Linked DNA regions of Homo sapiens: region 1 is linked to region 2. Evidence: fine-mapped expression QTL. A gene starts in region 2. The other region holds a variant in brackets. All regions are shown on one strand. Distances are between the middles of the regions. Region 1 has its middle 34 kb from the start of ATP8B2. Region 2 holds the start of ATP8B2 (ATPase phospholipid transporting 8B2).

What was found. PIP is the estimated chance that this variant, and not a neighbour inherited with it, causes the effect.
Region 1: its variant is the best candidate, but not a certain one, in a credible set for the expression of ATP8B2 in monocytes after R848 (Quach 2016, PIP 0.51).

The regions. Positions count from the first base shown.
Region 1 is chr1:154,354,104-154,365,819 of GRCh38, reverse strand. No RefSeq gene overlaps it. Among named protein-coding and RNA genes, the nearest start is that of ATP8B2, 34 kb to the right of the region's middle. RefSeq lists a silencer at 3,560-3,760. The variant G/C (reference allele first, on the strand shown) is at 8,536.
Region 2 is chr1:154,321,148-154,329,147 of GRCh38, reverse strand. ATP8B2 (ATPase phospholipid transporting 8B2) reads right to left here and starts at 3,623. Exons shown (of 28, transcript NM_001370597.1): 1 at 3,446-3,623; 2 at 976-1,043. The coding sequence starts at 1,006. AQP10 (aquaporin 10) reads right to left here. Exons shown (of 6, transcript NM_080429.3): 1 at 7,888-8,000; 2 at 7,089-7,215; 3 at 6,029-6,166; 4 at 5,789-5,907; 5 at 5,342-5,559; 6 at 3,823-4,866. The coding sequence starts at 7,992. The coding sequence ends at 4,668. RefSeq lists silencers at 184-643, 3,203-3,352, 3,403-3,632, 4,063-4,142 and enhancers at 2,283-2,462, 4,583-4,662.

The sequences.
Region 1 (11,716 bases), 35 kb before region 2:
TTGAAATGGTTACAATGGTAAATTTTATGTTCTCTATTTTACCACAATTTTAAAAATATTGAGGACTCCAACGAGCCTTTGTTTATGTGAGTTATGTCTAAGAATATTTACCATATTAGAAATTAAAAGTGTCCAGGCACAGGCCAGGACTGGTGGCTCACATCTGTAATCCCAGCACTTTGGGAGGTCAAGGTGATCAGGAGTTCGAGACCAGCCTGGCCAACATGGTGAAACCTTGTCTCTACGAGAAATGCAAAAATTAGCCCGATGTGGTAACGTGCGCCTGTAGAACCAGCTACTCAGGAGGCTAAAGTGGGAGAATCACTTGAGCCTGGGAAGTGGAGGTTGCAGTGAGCCAAGATCTCACCACTGCACTCCAGCCTGGGTGACAGAGACTCTGTCTCAAAAAAAAAAAAAAAAATTGTGTGGGCACAGTGGCACACGCCTATAATCCCAGCACTTTGGATGGCCGAGGAGGGCAGATCACTTGAGGCCGGGGGTTCAAGACTAGCCTGGCCAACATGGTGAAACCCTATCTCCACTAAAAGTACAAAAATTGGCTGGGTGTGGTGGTACACACCTGTAGTCACAACTACTTGGGGGGCTGAGTCAAGAGAATCACTTGAATCTGGGAAACGGAGGTTGCAATGAGCTGAGATTGCACCACTGCACTCCAACCTGGGCGACAGAGTGAGATTCTGTCTCAAAAATCAAAACAAAACAAAAAGATATTAAAATTGAGAATTTAAAATATTAATTCATTAATATTTTTATGAAATCTGAAATAATAACAATTAAACCACTACAAATGTATATTTTTAAATTTTGTCGTTTTTGGTGTTTTTTTCTTTTTTTGAGACAGAGTCTCACTCTGTCACCCAGGCTGGAGTGCCGTGGTGTGATCTCGGCTCACTGCAACCTCTGACTCCTGGGTTCAAACAATTCTCCTGCCTCAGCTGCCTCAGCCTCCCGAGTAGCTGGAATTACAGGTGCATGCCACCATGCCTGGCTAGTTTTTTAGTAGAGACAGGGTTTTGCCATGTTGGCCAGGCTGCTCTTGAACTCCCAGCCTCAGATGATCTGCCTCCCTCGGCCTCTCAAAATGCTGGGATTACAGGCATGAGCCACTGTGCCCCGCCAAATTTTTGTTTAAAATAAAGAGAAATAAGAGAGACATTGTTTTACAGTTTTTGCTTTTACTTTAATGTCTGACTTATAAAAGACAATATGAATCTAATTTTGGCTTCTATATTCAATCTGTTCCTATATGATGTTTTAGTTGAATTATACGAAGAAAGTTTGGCCCTACATAGATATGTAGTTGGAAAATGGAGAATTTTAATAGCCTTTTCAGATAATTGTGGATTTTTTTTTATGTAAAACTCAACAAGTGGTAGTTTATTTCATTTTATTTATTTTTAACAAAGGTCTCACTCTATCTTCCAGGCTGGAGTGCAGTTGTATGATCATGGTTCGCTGTAGCCTCCATCTCCTGGACTCACGTGTTCTGCCTGCCTTAGCCTCCAAGTAGCAAAGACTCCAGGTATACACCACCACACCCAACTAATTTTTTTTTTTTCGAGACAGGGTCTCTTTTGCCCAGGCTGAAGTGCAATGGCTGATCTTGGCTCACTGCAAACTCTGCCTCCTAGGCTCAAGCAATCCTCCTGCCTCAGCACCCCCCAAGTATTAATAACTGGGAATACTGGTGTGCACCACTACACCCAGCTAATTTTTGTATGAGACCGGCTTTTGTCGTGTTGCCCAGGCTGGCCTCAAACTCCTAGGCTCAAGAGATCTGCCTGCCTTGGCCTTTCATAGTACTAGGATTACAGGCATAAGCCACCTCCCCTGGCCTAATTGTTTTATTTTTTTTAGCAACAGTGCTCTCACTTTGTTGCCCACTCTGGTCTCGAACTCTTGGCCTCAAGCAATCCACCCACCTCGGACTCCCAAAGTGCTAGGATTACAGGCATGAGCTCCTGCACCTGGCCAACAAGTGGTATTTCCTTAAGGACTAGTTGCAATATGGAATCTGAAACCAAATTTCGAATTCATAAAGTTTTCTTTTTTTTTTTTTTTTTTTGAGACGGAGTCTCCTCTGTCACCCAGGCTGGAGTCCAGTGGCGTGATCTTGGCTCACTGCAACCTCCGCCTCCTGGGTTCAAGTGATTCTCCTGCTTCAGCCTCCTGAGTAGCTGGGATTACAGGTGCACGTCACCACACCCAGCTAATCTTTAAATTTTTCTTAGTAGAGACGGTTTCACCATATTGGCCAGGCTGGTCTCAAACTCCTGACCTCATGATCCACCCACCTTGGCCTCCCAAACTGCTGGGATTACAGGTGTGAGCCACCACACCCAGCTAAGTTTTCATATTTTTTTGTTCATTAAAATCCATTGTTCTATCTTGCACGTTGTTTTTTTTTTTTTTACTATACAAAATTTTGTAACATCATGCATTGGTTATTTGGAAAATACTGGGTCACTAAGTTATAAAGATTATTGAGATAATTCATCATACAATGTCAAAAAAATCACATTTGTTAATACCACCATTCTCATCAAAAGTCTTTTACATACTGGTAGCCAAGTAATAATGGTGAATACAGTTCAAGTAAATGTGCTCAACAGTCTGAGTCTCGTGGAATTAATTTTCATTCTAGTGGTTTTGCGTCAGTAGCCTGACGTCATGAGGTCACCTACTGCGGAACTGAAATGATCCTAGGAATTCTGAGTCTCCGGTCCTTTGTTTCATTCTTTCCTCTACGTTCCTAAGGTTATCTTTCTAGGATGTTTCTTCCAGAAGACCCTAATGGGGTCTGTAGCATACAGCAAGGGCCCTGAGGCTTGTGTGAGAGGACAGTGAAAACTATCAGTTGATGACATGCAGAATGATTTAGATTTGTAAACCCAAAGTATCTGAGACAGGCCTCAACCAATTTAGGACGTTTATTTTGCTGGCCGGGTGCGGTGGCTCACGCCTGTAATCCCAGCACTTTGGGAGGCCAAGGCGGGTGGATCATGAGGTCAGGAGATCGAGACCACCTTGGCTAACATGGTGAAACCCCGTCTCTACTAAAAATACAAAAGATAAGCTGGGTGTGGTGGTGGGCGCCTGTAGTCCCAGCTACTTGGGAGGCTGAGGCAGGAGAATGGCGTGAACCCAGGAGGTGGAGGTTGCAGTGAGCTGAGATTGCGCCACTGCACTCCAGCCTGGGCGACAGAGCAAGACTCTGTCTCAAAAAAAAAAAAAAAAAAAAGAAAGTTTATTTTGCCAAGGTTAAGGACACACCCATGACACAGCCTCCAGAGGTCCTGAGGACAAGGTGGTCCCAAGGTGGTCGGGGTATAGCCTTTTACACATTTTAGGGAGCCACGAGACATCAATCAATATGTGCAAGATGTACATTGGTTCTGTCTGGTGAAGAGGGACAAATCGAAGTGGGGGAGCGCTTCCAGGTCATAGGTAGATAAGACAAAAAAGGTTGTATTCTTTTCAGTCCTTGATCAGCCTTTCACTGAATACACAATTTATTCTGGCTTAGTGAATCTGCATTTTTACATTAACAATAGGGCAGAGGAAGCAATAAGATAAGCATTTGTCTCAAGTCAGCAGAGGGATGACTTTCTGTCCTGTACCTGTGAAAATAAGCTAACGGTTTACATTGCCAGGGTGAAATTCAACAGAACTATTTTAGGATAAAGATTTTGAGGCCCGCAAGGAATTTCCTTGTGGACAAATTGTGAGGGAGGTATGTAGCTCTTTTATCTTTGTAGCTATCTCATTTAGCAATAAAATGGGAGGCAGTTCTGCCTGATGCAATTCCCAGCTTGACTTTTCCCTTGGCTTAGTGATTTTGGGGTCCTGAGATTTATCTTCCTTTCACAGATTGATGGGTCACAGTGTCTGAAAACATCAGAAGGTCTTTTTATTTTTCATTTTTTGAGACAGGGTCTTGCTCTGTCACCAGGCTGAAGTGCAGCGGCGCAATCACTGCAACCTTGACCTCCTGGGTTCAAGCGATCCTCCCAACTCAGCCCCCACCCCCGGCCCTGCACCCTCCAGTAGCTGGGACTGGAGGCTAATCTTTGTATTTTTTCCAGAGACGGGGTCTCACCACGTTGTCCAGGCTGGTCTTGAACTCCTGGGTTCAAGTGATCCTCCCGCCTCAGGCTCCCAAAATGCTGGGATTACAGGGATGAGCCACCATGACTGGCCAGAATGTCTTTTTATAAAAACATTTATTAGTAGTTATCATTCCATTTAGGTGAGTACAGTTGTTTATACTCTCCTTCTGAAATATTTAGTGGAAGTAAAGTAGCTTATCTGACCAGTAAAGCCAGCAAAGGAAATTTAGAAAGCTCAGATTAATTAAACTTTGCAAAAATAAAGTCTTGGATAAACTAATATTATGCAAACAATACTTTCCACATGGTAATAAAATTAGAAGAAGGTAAAAAGCAAAGCTGTCTTTTTTCTTCTTCTTCTTCTCTTTTTTTTCTTTTTTTCTGTCTTTTTTTGAGATGGAGTTGTTTTGCTCATGTCGCCCAGGCTGGAGTGCAGTGGCGCGACCTCAGCTCACTGCAACCTCTGCCTCCCAGGTTCAAGCAATTCTCCTGCCTCAACCTCTCAAGTAGCTGGGACCACAGATGCGCACCACCATGCCCAGCTCAAGACCTGTCCTCTAGGATGAACTAAAGCTATCCAATCAGTCTGTATTAGTCAACTCCAGCTGCTGTAACAAAATACTGGCCAGGCACAGTGGCTCATACCTGTAATCCCAACACTTTGGGAGGCCAAAGCAGGCAGATCACTTGAGTTCAGGAATTTGAGACAAGACTGGACAACATGGCAAGACCCTGTCTCTACAAAAATTATCTAGGCATGGTGGTGCATGCCTGTAGTTCCAGCTACTCAGGAGGCGGATGCAGGAGGATGGTTTGAGCCCCAGAAGCAGAGATTGCAGTCAGCTGAGACTATGCCACTATACTCCAGCCTGGGTGATAGAGTGATACTGTCTCAAAATCAAAACAAAATAAACAAACAAAAACAAATACAGTCACATAGGGGTTATGATTTCAACATATGAATTGGGGGGGATACAATTTATTTCATAGCACAGCCTTATTTATCTAAAGATTTATTTTGACACACCTAGCTTACTTGAACTTTGATGCTTGTAGCATTCTTCTGTACCTATACATCAAATATTAAAAACCAAATCAAAATTTTGGTATCAAAAAGTTTTCAGCCCAGCATGTAGTACAAACCTGTAATCCCACCTACTTAGGAGGATGAGGTGGGAGGATTGCTTGAGGCCAGGAGTTGGAGAACAGACTGGGCAACATAGCAAGACCCCATCCTGAAAAAAAAACAACTTTTTAAATTAGAAGAATAAGAATTAAGCTCTTCTGTCATATAATAGGTTTCCTCATTTATGAATACATACCCTGCCTTTGATTCCCTTGCCTGTCATTGGCCACTGGCCCAGTGGAGACTTAGCACCATGATATGAGATGATACTTCAGACTTCTTGATAAATCATGCTAGAATTCCACGCAGTTCAAGGGTCTACATCCCACTACATCCCTCCCTTATGCTATTACCAGAAAGGGGTCCCAATCCGGACCCCAGCAGAGGGTTCTTAGATCTCGAGAAAGAAAGATTTTGAGGCAAATCAATAGAGTAAAGTGAAAGCAAGTTTATTAAGAAAGTAAAGGAATAGGCCAGGCACCATGGCTCATGCCTGTTATCCCAGCACTTTGGGAGGCTGAGGCAGGCTGATCATTCGAGCTCAGGAGCTTGAGACCAGCCTGGGCAACATGGCGAAACCCTGACTCTAGTAAAAATACAAAAATTACCCAGGTATAATGGTTCATTCCTGTAATCCCATTTACTTGGGAGGCTGACGCACGAGAATCGCTTGAACCCAGAGGTTGCAGTAAAGGGTTGCAGTGAGATGACACCACTGCACTCCAGCCTGGGTGACAGAGTGAGACTCTGTTTCAAAAAAAAAAAAAGAAAGTAAAAGAATAAAAGAATGGCTATTCCATAGGTAGAGCAGTGGCATGGGCTGCTCAACTGATAATATGGTTTGGCTGTGTCCCCACCCAAATCTCATCTTGTAGTTCCCATAATCTCCACTTGTTATGGGAGGGACCTGGTGGGAGGTAATTGATCATGGAGGCCGTTTCCCCTATTCTATTCTCATGATAGTAAGTACTCACAAGATCTGATGGTTTTATAAGGGGCTTCCCCCTTCACTGGGCTCTCATTCTTGCCCTGGCTGCCACCATGTGAAGAAGGACATGTTTGCTTTCCCATCTGCAATGATTGCAAGTTTCCTGAGGCCTCCCCAGCCATGCTGAACTGTGGGTCAATTAAACCTCTTTCCTTTATAAATTACCCAGTCCTGGGTATGTCTTTATTAGCAACATGAGAACAGACTAATCAAGTAACAATTGATTATACTTATAGTTACTTCTTGGTTATGTGCTAAACAGGGGGTGGATTATTCATGAGTTTTCCAGGAAAGGGTGGGCAATTCCTGGAACTGAGGGGAGTGTTCCTCCCCTTTTTTTACCATATAGGGTAACTTCCAGACACTGCCATGGCATTTGTAAACTGTCATGGCGCAGGTGGGAATGTCTTTTAGCATGCTAATAATTAGCACATAATGAGCAGTGAGGACAACCGGAGATCACTTGTGTCACCATCTTGGTTTTGGTGGCTTTTGGCTGGCTTCTTTACTGCATCCTATTTTATCAGCAAGGTCTTTGTGACCTGTATCTTGTGCTGACCTCCTAGCTCATCCTATAACTAAGAATGTCTGATCTCCTGGAAATGCAGCCCAGTAGGTCTCAGCCTTATGTTACCCAGACCCTATTCAAGATGGAGTTGCTCTGGTTCAAATGCCTCTGACAATACCACCCAAACTCAGACAAGAAAGGCTACTGATGCAGGCTGATCTAGGGAGCTCCCCTCACCACCACCACCATGAGCCCTCTTCTGGCCATACCCCTCCCATAAAATGATGAGTCAAAGGGGCCGACTGGACTTGCCCAGCTGGAGCCCACACTGCCTCCTTCTAGACCAGCACACTCAAATTGTGGCCCTTGAACTGCTGCCATTCAACAGATGGCTTGTTACTGGACCACAATGAGCCAAGTATAGAAATGAAAAGCAGCAGAGGCGAGGCGCTGTGGCTTACGCCTGTAATCCCAGCACTTTGGGAGGCCGAGGCTGGCGGATCGCCTGAGGTCGGGAGTTTGAGACCAGACTGACCAGTAGAAACCCTGTCTCTATTAAAAATGCAAAATTAGCCAGGCATGGTGGCACATGCCTGTAATCGCAGCTACTCGGGAGGCTGAGGCTGGAGAATTTCTTGAACCCGGGAGGCGGAGGTTGCGGTGAGCTGAGATAATGCCATTGCACTCCAGCCTGGGCAACAAGAGCAAAACTCCATCTCAAAAAAAAAAAAAAGAAAGAAAGAAATGAAAAGCAGCAGGGCACCGGGCGCAGTGGCTCACTCCTGTAATGCCAGAACTTTGGGAGGCTGAGGCATGCAGATCACCTGAGGTTGGGAGTTCAAGACCAGCCTGACCAACATGGAGAAATCTCGTCTCTACTAAAAATACAAAAAACTTAGCCGGCCACGGTGGCCCATGCTTGTAATCCCAGCTATTCAGGAGGCTGAGGCAGGAGAATCATTTGAACCCGGGAGGCAGAGGTTGCAGTGAGCAGAGATCGCACCATTGCTCTCCAGCCTGGGTAACAAGAGTGAAACTCCATCTCAAAAAAAAAGAAAGAAAAGAAAAGCAGCAGGGTGCAGTGGCTCACACCTGTAATCCCAGCACTCTGGGAGGCTGAGGCAGGTGGATCACATGAGATCAGGAGTTCGAGACCAGCCTGGCCAACATGGCAAAACCCCGTCTCTATTAAAAATACAAAAATTAGGCCAGGTGCAGTGGCTCACACCTGTAATCACAGCACTTTGGGAGGCCGAGGCGGGCGGATCACAAAATCAGGAGATCGAGACCATCCTGACTAACACAGTGAAACCCCATCTCTACTAAAAATACAAAAAATTACCCGGGTGTGGTGGTGGGCACCTGTAGTCCCAGCTACTCGGGAGGCTGAGGTAGGAGAATCACTTGAACCCAGGAGGTGGAGGTTGCAGTGAGCCGAGATCGTGCCACTGCACTCCAGCCTGGGTGCAAGAGGGAGACTCCGTCTCAAAAAAAAAAAAAAAAAAGAAAAGAAAAAAAGAAATGAAATGAAATGAAACACCAAGCATTTAGAAACTTTTATCACAATTTTACTTTGCTGCAACATCCAAGCTCCTGATCATTTTCCATTTTCCAGGAATTTGTTTTCATTGTATTTTATAAAAGTATCAGCCAGCCTATCACAGATTGGAAATTTTATTTATTTATTTACTTTTCAAGAAGGGAAAGAAAGGCTGGGCACGGTGGCTCACACCTGTAATCCCAGCACTTTGGGAGGCTGAGGTGGGCAGCTCACTTGAGGTCA[G/C]GAGTTCGAAACCAGCCTGGCAAACATGGCAAAAACCCATCTCTACTAAAAATACAAAAATTAGCCTGGTGTAGTGGCACACATCTGTAATCCCAGCTACCTAGGAGGCTAAGGCAGGAGAATTGCTTGAATCCAGGAGGCAGAGGTTGCAGTGAGCCAAGATAGTGCCACTACACTCCAGCCTGGGTGACAGAGACTCCAACTCAAAAAAAAAAAGGAAAGAAATTTAACAGATTGGAAACTTTAAAAGCTGGTTATTCACCTGAAGCACTATTCTAGACTCTGGCATTTTTCTATCCAAATGGTGTTGAGTTCATTTCCAAGGACTCTGCAGCCTTCTGCTTCAGGTATTCTCTGGCAAACAGACCCATCTGCCAGTGTGCACACCTGGCTCCAGTAAGTGGCCAGGAACAGCTGTTTGCAGGGGTGCAGGTGGAACTTGGACTTGTGTGCTGGGGTGTGCTGCAGAAGCAAGGACCCTCACAGTGTAGAATGGGACAGGGAGGGAAGTGGGAAGAGGAGGGGCAGGCTGGGGGCTGGGAGGCCAAAGGGGCAGGTTCTAAATTTAAACTGACATTCCAAGTTGTTAGGAAGATATATCTGTCAAGGTAGGAAGACACAGCCTACTTTGATCTCATAACTCCTCTGTACTCAGACACGTGGTACGTGGGCCTCCATTTGCTACTTGCCCTGAGTCCCATGAACATTCAGGGCAGGGCTGCCTGAAGCATCCCTAGGTGAACAGCTGAGGAGCCTATTAAACTGCATGCACTTTGTAAAAGCACATAAGCATTTCATCACATGGCTTCACTGGATTTTCAGAGGTGAACCTGAGCCAAAAGTATGAAGAACCGCAGTCCCAGACATTGCAGAAAACATGACAGGGCAAGCTGGCCGGTTCTACTATGCTGGATCCAAAGCCGGGGTCCAAGGTTGTCTCACCCACTTCTTTGTGTGAGGGTAGACCTAGAGAACAGCCAGCATCTGGGGGTACTAAGGATGTCTCCTATAGTCTTCTGGTATCCTTTGTACCTCCACAGAATAGACTTTCTGCGTTTCTAGAAATCTTCCCTTCCCCTGCAGAGGAGAATCAACCCCCAGGCCCAAACTGCTGCATGTTTGCTTCTAGCCCCAGCGGTTCTCCAGGTGTTGTAGAAGCAGCCACTCAGCTATGCAGCTGCCTGCCTTCCGCCCCAGGGGTGTCCCTCCCTGCGTGGGGAGCCCAGGCACAGCAGCAGGCGCCCAGAAGGTTCTGGCAGAAGAGCTGCACCCAAGGTAGTAGGGGACCAGGAAGAGATGAACCCCCAGCTTGTAGCTGTGCACTGCGGGGCTGCGAGTGAAATGAAGAGTGGCCCATGAGGAAGGAGTGGAGAGTGGGACATGGTCCTTTCCTTCCACCTGTCACCCCCTCCTCACCTCCTGCCTGCCCTTGAGTAAACCTGGGCATCCTCTCCTCCTTGCCCCAGTCCTGGAACCCACACATGTCCCTGCTGGGCCCCGGGGGGCCGAAAACACGGCTTAGGCCTCCCTGTCCTATTCCCAGTGGCAGGATGGAAGATTTCTGCAGAATTTCCAGCCCAGGCCAAACTCAGGCTGTGCTAGGCTGGAGGAACTCCCTCTTTCTGTGTCCAAAAACACTCCTTTCTTAAGAGGAGACACTCCATCACGTTTTGGAGAGAGAGAGAGAGGGAAAGTGTGTGTGTGTTTTGTTTTGTTATTTTATTTTTTTAGAAGGAGACTTACTCTGTCGCCCAGGCTGGAGTATAGTGGCGCGATCTCTGCTCACTGCAACCTCTGCCTCCTGGGTTCAAGCCATTCTCCTGCCTCAGCCTCCTGAGTAGCCGAGATTACAGGGGCACGCCAGGACACCCAGCTAATTTTTGTATTTTTAGTAGAGACAGGGTTTCACCATGTTGGCCAGACTGGTCTCGAACTCCTGGCCTCAGGCGATCTGCCCACCTTGACCTCCCAAAGTGCTGGGGTTACAGGCATGAGCCACCATGCCGGGCCACTGTGTGTGTGTGTGTGTGTGTGTGTGTGTGTGTGTGTGTGTGTGTGTGTGTGTTTTGGTTTTTTTAGATGGAGTTTCGCTCTTGTTGCCCAGGCTAGAGTGCAACGGCCTGATCTTAGCTCAATGCAACCTCCGCCTCCCAGGTTCAAGTAATTCTCCTGCCTCAGCCTCCTGAGTAGCTGGGATTACAGGCGTCTGCCCCCATGCCCAGCTAATTTGTTGTATTTTTCGTATAGACAGGGTGAAGCCATTTTAGTCAGGCTGGTCTCGAACTCCTGACCTCAGATGATCCACCCGCCTTGGCCTCCCAAAGTGCTGGGATTACAGGCGTGAGCCACTGCGCCCAGCCCAGTGTGTGTTTTAATAGACTAGTATTGGGAAAGACTTCCCTCTCTCAGCCCGGCAAGATAAGTCTACACCCTCCCCAGGCGGGTGTCCAGCAGGGCAGCTCCCAGCAACTCACTGAGAACTGGAAAGTTTCCAGGAAGGGTTGGGAGGGTCAGACAGGTCATGTTTCTCACTGGGGTCAGGACACAGTCCTTCAAGATAGGACACTGGAGCAGAGATAAGCAGGAGAACTCAGCTCCTTCCTTCAGCCGCAGAGCCCAGTGTTTAGTACATCTCCATCAATGGCTTGCTTCCTCTGAAGTAGAGACTGCAGTGGGTAGTCCTGGTGCTTTATCAGTGAGTCCCTCCCTCATGCTCTGCAGGGTGGCTACAGTGGGAGGCTGCAGCTGCCTACCTAATCTGAGCACTCTGGTCTCTCCAGTTTCTCTTTTGGGGCCAAGGAAAGTGACATTGAACCTTTGTGGCAGAATTTCTTTGTGTTTTGAGTCCCAACCTAGATGGCCCCGCTTTGGGGACAGAAATATGGCTGTCGTGACCCTGCCTGGGTCACAATCACTGGGAAACAGTGGCTCAGGACATTGCAGCTTAATCATTTCATGCTCCACATCAAAGAAGATGAAATATATGATTTACAGTGTGGTGGCCCCAGAGCAGAGGTTGTAGGGTTTTCTCCAGGACATGTGTGTCTGGCTTTGGTGACTGGTGAGATCGCGTGCTGCTCACTGAAATAGAGGATGCGGGAGGAGCAACAGGTGTTGGGAAAAACAATGTTCAGTGTGGGGTATGTTGAATAACAGGTGGTGGTGGGTCGTCCTAGTGGAG
Region 2 (8,000 bases):
ACAAGTGAATGTAGGGATTGGAGGGGGGAAATAATGGGTGCGGGAGAGCTGCCAGGCGCTGCCTCCCGTTACCTGTCCCCCAAGAGGGCTTCTTTCGGCTCCAAGAGGGAGGCGCCTGGGCCCGGGCCCACTTCTCGGGCATCTCCTTGGGGACCGTCATGATCCCGGTTTGAGTGGGGGAGGGCAGACCGTCTATATGTCCTTGGCCTTAGTGGCATCGACGGGGCGGCTCCCCGGGGAGGTGCAGGAGCCGCAGCCGCTCAGAGGGGAGCCCCAGCCGTCGGGCGCGCGCCCCACCCGCAGCCCAGGCCATCCTCCCGGCCGCCGGCGCTCGGGGACACCGCGAGCTCAGCTGCGCCGCCGCCGCCGCCCCCCATGCCCCCCGGCGGATGCCAGCGTGCGCTGAGTGGCCCCGGACACGCCGAGCACGCCCAGGGTTCCGCCCCCGCCCGCTCCCCGACTGCAGGAGCCGCAGCCTGCCAGCGCGCCGCGTAGGCGAAAGCTCGCGCGCGAGCCCCGCCTCCCCTCCCACCCCCGGGCCGGGCCAATGCGGGTGAGCGGACTGCCGGCGTTGTCGGGGGCAACCGCTTTCACACACACACACCCCCGCCCGCGGAAAAACCAGGAGAACCGGTAGATGGAAAAACGAGGGGAGCAGGGAAGGGGTGAGAGGACCAAGCAGAGATGAGAACACAGCTCCCTAGGCCAGAAAGCAGGAGCTGCAGGTGCCCGAAGATAAGACTGCAGGTGTTTCGGGGCGTGGGGCTGGTGCTCTGCGCTGTCCTGGCAGATAACCCAGCTTTGGGATCAAGCGGAAGAATTCGGTTTCCTAGGCTGCCCCCAAGCTGGGTAGGGGCTGCTGTAAGCTACCCTCCCTCAGACCCATACCAGTTGTCCCTTTTCCTTTTGCTCCCTGAGCCATAACAACACCCACTCTTGATGGTTCCCGGGATCTCCCCTCCTTGCCTGTCTTACCTGGGGGGCGCTTTTTTGCACACACTGCCATCTCACCCAGCAAGATCCCAGCAATCCCATGGGAGACCCTGCAAGAAGTGACAGACGAATGAGGTCAGGAAGCTGAGGATAACCCTTCCCTCCCCTCATGAGACCTCTTTTGAAGACCCTCTTCTCCAGCTCTGACCCTGCCCCTCCCCCAGCCTCCTTCTCCCAGTCTCTCCTCTTACTGCCATGATGGGTTCCTGGGAAAGAGGGGACTTCCCCACCACCTCCCATCATGCCCCTGCCTTGGGTGACATGGGGGGCTGAGACTTTACAGAAGCCCATGCCTGTAGGGAAAGGAGAAGAGGCCAGATATTGAAAAAAGGGGAACAGCTCTCAAGGTATCCATCCCAGGGACAATGGAGGCTCTCATGTGTTCTGGCGGCAATGAGTAGTGCTTGTGCTTACTAGAAAGCAGTTTCCCCAAAGGGTGGGGTGGAGGGAACATGAGCCAGGAAACACCTGGCAGGGCATCAGGAAACAGGGTGGGCAGGCTCCACCCTTCTCGAAAGGCTTATAAGTTCCCTGCCATCCCCACCCCCCATTACTAGGGCTTCCATTATCACCTCCTCCAGGGGAGCTCACATTAGAGGCATGGCCCTCACTTTCTGCACAGACAGTCCCTAAACAGCTTCCCCTCAGCCTGGGTCAGCCACCCTTCTGGGCTGGCAGAGGGGTCTTCCCAACCCTGGTGGGGAGTTTGCCCCTCCCTCCCTCCCACCCCAAGCCTAGTCCAGTCAGTATGGCACAGGGTGCAGGCTTAGGGAGCACCAGTGAGACAAGCCTCTGCCTGCTTCCGCCTTCCCATGTCCTTTCTCCTAAAAGGTTCAAGGCCTGGCCTTACAAGGCAGAGCCTCATCCTTACTCCCCAGCCTGGCCCAAAGGAAACTGCCAGTCAGTCACCTCCTCTTTCCTTGTCTGGGTGGAAGGCCTTTCACCTCCTCATCCTCTTTGGTTCCCTCTGCCTTTAGCCTACCAGGCACACCCCACCAACCTGTCAGCCCCAAGAGATACTAATTGCCTGTCTGGCTAAGCTCTATAATTACAGATTCTGGCCACAACCCAGTCACCCACACCAGTTCTCCCTTCGCTAGCTCAGATCCCGCCCTTACACCAAGTCAGGCAATCCTGAAAGCCAGAAGTCCTTTTCATCCCTGACCTTCTCCAACTATGGCAGTCCAGGGTGCCTGGCTCAGGAAGAAAAACCTCATCCATATTTTAGAGATGCCAAGCCCTCCTCCAGGGCCCCCAGCCAGGGTCTCCACCCAGTCTGAGTATGAGTCACGGGAGGGTGGGGAGCACAGGGAGAGGTTAAAGGATGCAAGAGTGGGCATCACAAGTTCTACAGGCAGCCCCGCCCTTGGGGAGGAAGGGATCAAGAAACACTATCAGCCTAAACATCTGAGTTTGAGTCCCATGAAAGAGTTAATGTAGGAGCTGCACACGCCATCAGGAGTCAGGAGTCTGGATATGGACCAGGAAAGTTGTTCTACCTCTGAGACCCTGGGGAGACTGGAAGCAGGCTTGGCCCCAGACCTCATCCCCTCTGGGGGGGCCATCATTCCAAGGGGAAGAGAGGAGAGACCTGGGAACTGGGATCCCCTCTCACTTTTCCTTCTTAGTCTCACACAGCCTGGGTTTTCTGAGCAGGTCAGGCCCATCAGCCACGTTGCCCTGCCCCGTCACCCAGCCCCAGCCCCCTCTCGGCCACATTTGGGATAAAAATAGCCAGCCCCGGCAAGCAGGCAATGCTCCATGGAGGAAAACAGCTCCTCCTATAGGTCCGGTCCCTGCTCCCTTACAAGCAAGAGCCCCAAAGGCTGGCCACTTCTTTCAGAGGAGGATGGCAGGTCAGGGAAACAGGAGGAAATGGAACTCGAGACCTCCAGCTCACTGGCCACCAACACGAGCTCGGGCCACCTTCCCTCACCAAGGACAGAACTCAGGGCTCCCGGCACAGCTATCATCTCCCAGAGCTACTGCCCCTTCCTGACACCCTCAGTTTTCCTCAGGCATAGACCTCCACCTTACTGAGACAAAGCCTACCAGCCCAAACTCCCTTCTCCAGGCACCAAACCCTCGGGTCCCGGTTACTCCTCTCGCCCAACAACTCTCTGGGCGGGTCTCCCCTGGCCAAGGCTGCACGAGCTTCTCCTTGGCACTCGCGCCGCTCTCCTGCTCTCCACGCGCCCCTTCGGCACCCCATCCTCCCATCCTGTACGCAGACCCCCGCTCTGCCCCGTCCCCGGGAACCCGACAGCCCCTCGTCTCCAGTCGGCCGCCATCCCCGCCCCGTCTGGCCGCAGCTCCCAAATCTTGGCCCCCGGTGCTCCCCAGTCTACACCCGCTCCCCGGCCCCTCCAGCCCCGCGGCTGCGGCCGCATCTCCCTCTGCCCTCCTGGCCCCGCGCTCCCGGGCGCCCCCGCTTCGCCTCGCCTCGCCTCACCTCAGCGCTCAGCGCTCGGCGCCCGCCCCGGCGGCCCCGTACTGCCCATGCCGGGGGCTGGGGCGGGGGGCGCTCGGCTCGGCTCCCCACGGGCTCCCGCCCCCCCAGCTGCGGCCCCGCTCCCCCGGGGCCTCGGCCCGCTACTTTGTGTCAGTTTCGGCCACGGCGGGGCGGAAGTGACGGAGCCGGCGGCGGGGGCCGGGGGGCGGGAGGGGGTTTTGGGGAGGGGAGAAGGAGCGGGGAGGAGGGAGCAGCCATCTTTGTGCGGGGCAGTGGGAGGGTCTTAGCCCTTCCGAGCCTCGGCGTGGCTGGGCTGGGATGCCCCCACACGTACGTCCATCCGCATCTTAAAAGAAAAAACAATTCGGGAGGCTAGATCGCTCTGAGGGGGTATTTTTAATTCGGAAGAAGGGAATAGAGGAACACTGCCTTCTCTGCAAAACGAGCATCCTCTGCAGGGAGCGGCAGGAGAGCTGTAGAAGTGGTGAATAACCAGAATTTTCCCTGGCGCCAGGTTGCCCTCAGCCCGACTCTCGCTCCTCGGAGCCGCCCGCCCTCCGTTCCTTCACCCTCCCTCCTCGCCCTGGCTCATTTCACTGTATCTCAACTCTCCTTGAATGAACGACACAGCACCGAGATGTCTAGGAACGGTGCCTCAGTTTCACAGCCTTGCTCTCTGTCTCTGTGCCCCGCCGCCCTCCTTCCCTCCGCCCCCACCACGCCCCCTGGGTGGAGGCGGCTTCCCCACCCCTAACTACCCTCTTGGGGAGGCATCCCCGAGAGGGTGAAGGTGGGAGGCGCCGAGGCGATGAGAGCTAGGAGTCGGCAGTCGGGACAGGCTATGGAGGGCAGTCCCCAGGGTTGTGCCCTACACTGGATGGTGGCCCCCTCCACCCTGCAGATGCCCGCAGCCGTCCCCATCCAGCATCCAGGTGCGCACCCTCTAGCGGTTACCTCGAGCAACTACATTCCGAGAGGCCCTGAGGGTCAGAAAACCGCTTTGCGGGAGGAGGGGATGAGAAGCCTGAGTCCTGGTACCTTATCCTCCTCCACTTCTCCCTGTCCAGGATCCTTCTTAGTTTAGGAGGAAGGGATGCCAAACAGATAAACAGAGAAGCCTCCCAGGTTCTGGCACATTAACAAAGAGGAAGAATGACTGTTGTTCCCAGGCGGGGTCAGTGGCTGGCTCCAGGGTCCATGAGTGAAGTGAGGGTTGTCCTAATCATAGCTTACACTCCAGCATCTGAGCTGAGGCAGGAGTTTCCAACTCTGAGGCTTTGTGTTGAGCAGACACCAGATCCTGAGCTGGCTCTGGGCCCTCAGGGTGGTGCAGAGCCACCAACAGCTGGTAAGTGGCTGTGCCAACGGTGGCCCCCACCAGAGGGGCCACCACAGGCACCCACCACCAGCCATTACCAGCACTGCAAAAGAAGGACAGTGGGAAGGTATCAGGAGTGACTCCCTTAGCCTTCCCCTCTCCAAGGACGGGGGGCAGTAACAAGAGAGTGCCCTAAAGTTGTTCCCAGGGTGGTAGACACCAGGAAGAGGATTGCCTTGTCACCAAAGCATAGTATTTAGAAGAGGGAACCCCAGGAGAGCTTGGTCCAGCCTCTTGCCTTAGGGAATTATCTGAATATATTAATTTTGCTGATGAAGTCACTAATGTGCATGGAAGTAATGTGGCATGCCTAAGAACACAACCTCTAAATCTTACTGTTTCAGTGAAAAGTTGGGAGGGAAGCAAGGGAGAAAGGGGGAGAATATGACTTGGAGAAAGAACACTGTCCTAAGAAGCCAAGAGAGCTATTTTAAAGGCAGAGTGCTGTGGACCCAGGGACAGAGCCCTTAGCAGAGGAAGGTGAGTGGAGGCCAGCACCAGGAGAGTCTGTCTCCCACCTGAAGACTTCAGGACCCCAGCCAGCCACGTAGGTGAAGAGACGTGGGCCCAGGTCCCGGGCAGGGTTGAGTGGAATCCCGCAGTTGGCACCCATGGATAACCCGAGGGCCAGGATCAGCATCCCCACCACCACAGGCTCCAGACCCGCAGGGACTCCCTTGTTCCGTCTGTCCAGGATGGCCAAGAGCCCCACAATCAGCATCCCAGTGCCCAGAACCTTGGAGTCAACAGAGGCAGAGGGTTCCCTGTCAGCTGCCAGGTGCTCCATCTGCCCTCTCTCATCCAAATATTCCATGTCATCTGGCTTTGTGCAACACAGGCAGTTGGGGATGGTGGGGAGTGCCAAGATAGACCCAACCCACACTCCACCCAGAGACTGAACAATAGGCTGGGGTGCCGAGGAACAGGACCAAAGTAGTGTCCCCAGGTCTCCCCCTCACACTTACCTGATCCAGGAAGCCATTGTTCAGGGACAGATAGGGGGCAGGATAGGTGGCAAAAATGGAGGCTGTCTCCTTGGGGCCAGTCACTGTCAGGTTCCCACCTGTATAGTTCTGTAGGGCATCTGTGGAGGAAGGGAACACCCAGGATTTCCCTCTTTGCTCATTCATCCAAAACCATTCTGAGGCACCCCTGCCCACCCACAGGTGCTCTCAAGGCACAGCTCCCTCTGTTCCCTCTGTCACCATGGTAGAGAACATAGGTGGCTCCCGAAGCACAGAAAGCAGACAGCAACTGCACCAAGATGTAAATGGGGAGCTTGACCCAGGGGAGGCGTCCAACGATGCACATGGCCAGGGAGAAGGCTGGATTCAGGTGGGCCCCTTCAAGTATCAAGGAAAGAAAAAGAGCATCTATTAAGTGTCACTGCCAGGCATTGTCACCAGACAACACTACTGCTCCTTCCTATAGCTCTTAAGGCAGATAGTGTAATTCTCATCACACAGCTTAGGAAATTGAGGCTCCAGATGTTACAGATGTTAAGTGACTTAGCAAAGTCACACTGTGGGCCAGGCACAGTGGCTCACGCCTGTAATCCCAGCACTTTGGGAGGCCGAGGCAGTGGATCACTTGAGGTCAGGAATTCCAGACCAGCCTGGCCAACATGGTGAAACCCCGTTTCCACTAAAAACACAAATATTAGCCAGGCGTGGTAGCAGGTGCCTGTAAAATCAGCTATTCGGGATGCTGAGGCAGGAGAATCGCGTGAACCCAGGGGCAGAGGTTGCAGTGAACAGACATCACACCACTGCTCTCCAGCCTGGGCAACAGAGTGAAACTCCATCTCAAAAAAAAAGAAAAAAAAAAAAAAAAAAGAAGAAGACACTGTGAATCCAAAGTTGGAACCTAGGTCTGTCTGCTTTTTCCACAGCAACACACTATGTCTCAAGGCTCCACCCAAGCACACCGATGCAGTGTGTATCTGGGGTACAAACAGGAGAGGTCCTGAGTGGAGATGAGCCCCCAGAGGACTTCAGGTGGGGGATACAAGAGGATAGCAGCTGCCCTTCGTGCCCTGCCATTGATTTCTGTCTAGGTGAGCCAAGCATTAGTGTGAGGAAGCAGGATGGAGAGATACAGAAAGAGGAGGGGCTGGTGGGGCCAAAGGCTTATTTCAGTCTGGGACACTGTTCAAGGGGATAATGTCCACGAGTCACAGAAGGATTTGCGTTTCCACCATCACCAGACAGACAAACTGGCATGCACATCCCACGTGCTCTGATGACCAGACCCCACCCTCCTCACCTGAGACGTTACCACCCACGTAGATGGCTATCGTAACGGCCAGAGAGCCAGCCAGAAACATGGTGAAGAAGTTGCCTTTGGTTTCTCCACTGGTGACAGCCTGGGCCACAGCTCCTTGGGTGAGGAGCTGCTGAGAAGAGGAGAGATGAGGAACAGGGAGCCCAGGAGACCAACAGGGAGAAAGGTTGGGAAGGCCAGGGGAGCAGCCAAGGAGATGAATGAGCACAGAAGACAAGCAAGGGAAGGAGAAAAGCAGAAGGAGGGAAGGGAAAAGAAATGGGGAAAGTGGAGGAAGAAGAAAGGGAAAGAATGTGGGAAAAAAGAAAAGAATTTACCCAACTCATAGGCATTTGAGGGTACAAACCCATGGCAGGGCTCAGCTTTAAAAAGTCTTATCTAAGATTCTTTCTATGGAAGAGTTCCATCAAAGCCAATTTTAAAAGCCTATGTGAAAAATAATTATTCTTGCTGCACTTTATACAATCATCAGGCCAAGTATAATAAAGCACATTGGTCTTACCATGAAAATGGTCTTTCATAAAAATGGGAAACTGAAGAGAGAAAAATTATGTTTCAAGAACTATGATACACTTGTTATTAAAGAAAGAATAAAAATGACAAGAATAAAAATGATGAAGTAGGAGAGGAAAGGAGATTAGGAGAGACGAGAGGATAAAAACGAAAAGTGATAGGGAGTTGAGAGGAAGGGGGACACCAAGAGAAAGAGATAAGGACAACAGAAGGAGCCAGGAACTTTTGCCCAACCCCCTTCTTTCCTTCCCGCAGTGATCCTACCTACCATGAGTACAAACACACCCAGAAACTCTGCCAGGCACTGCCGGGCCAGGAGGCTGCGTATCCGGAGGTGGCCCATGATTTCAGCCGGGGCCTGAGTGAAGACCATGGTGGAAA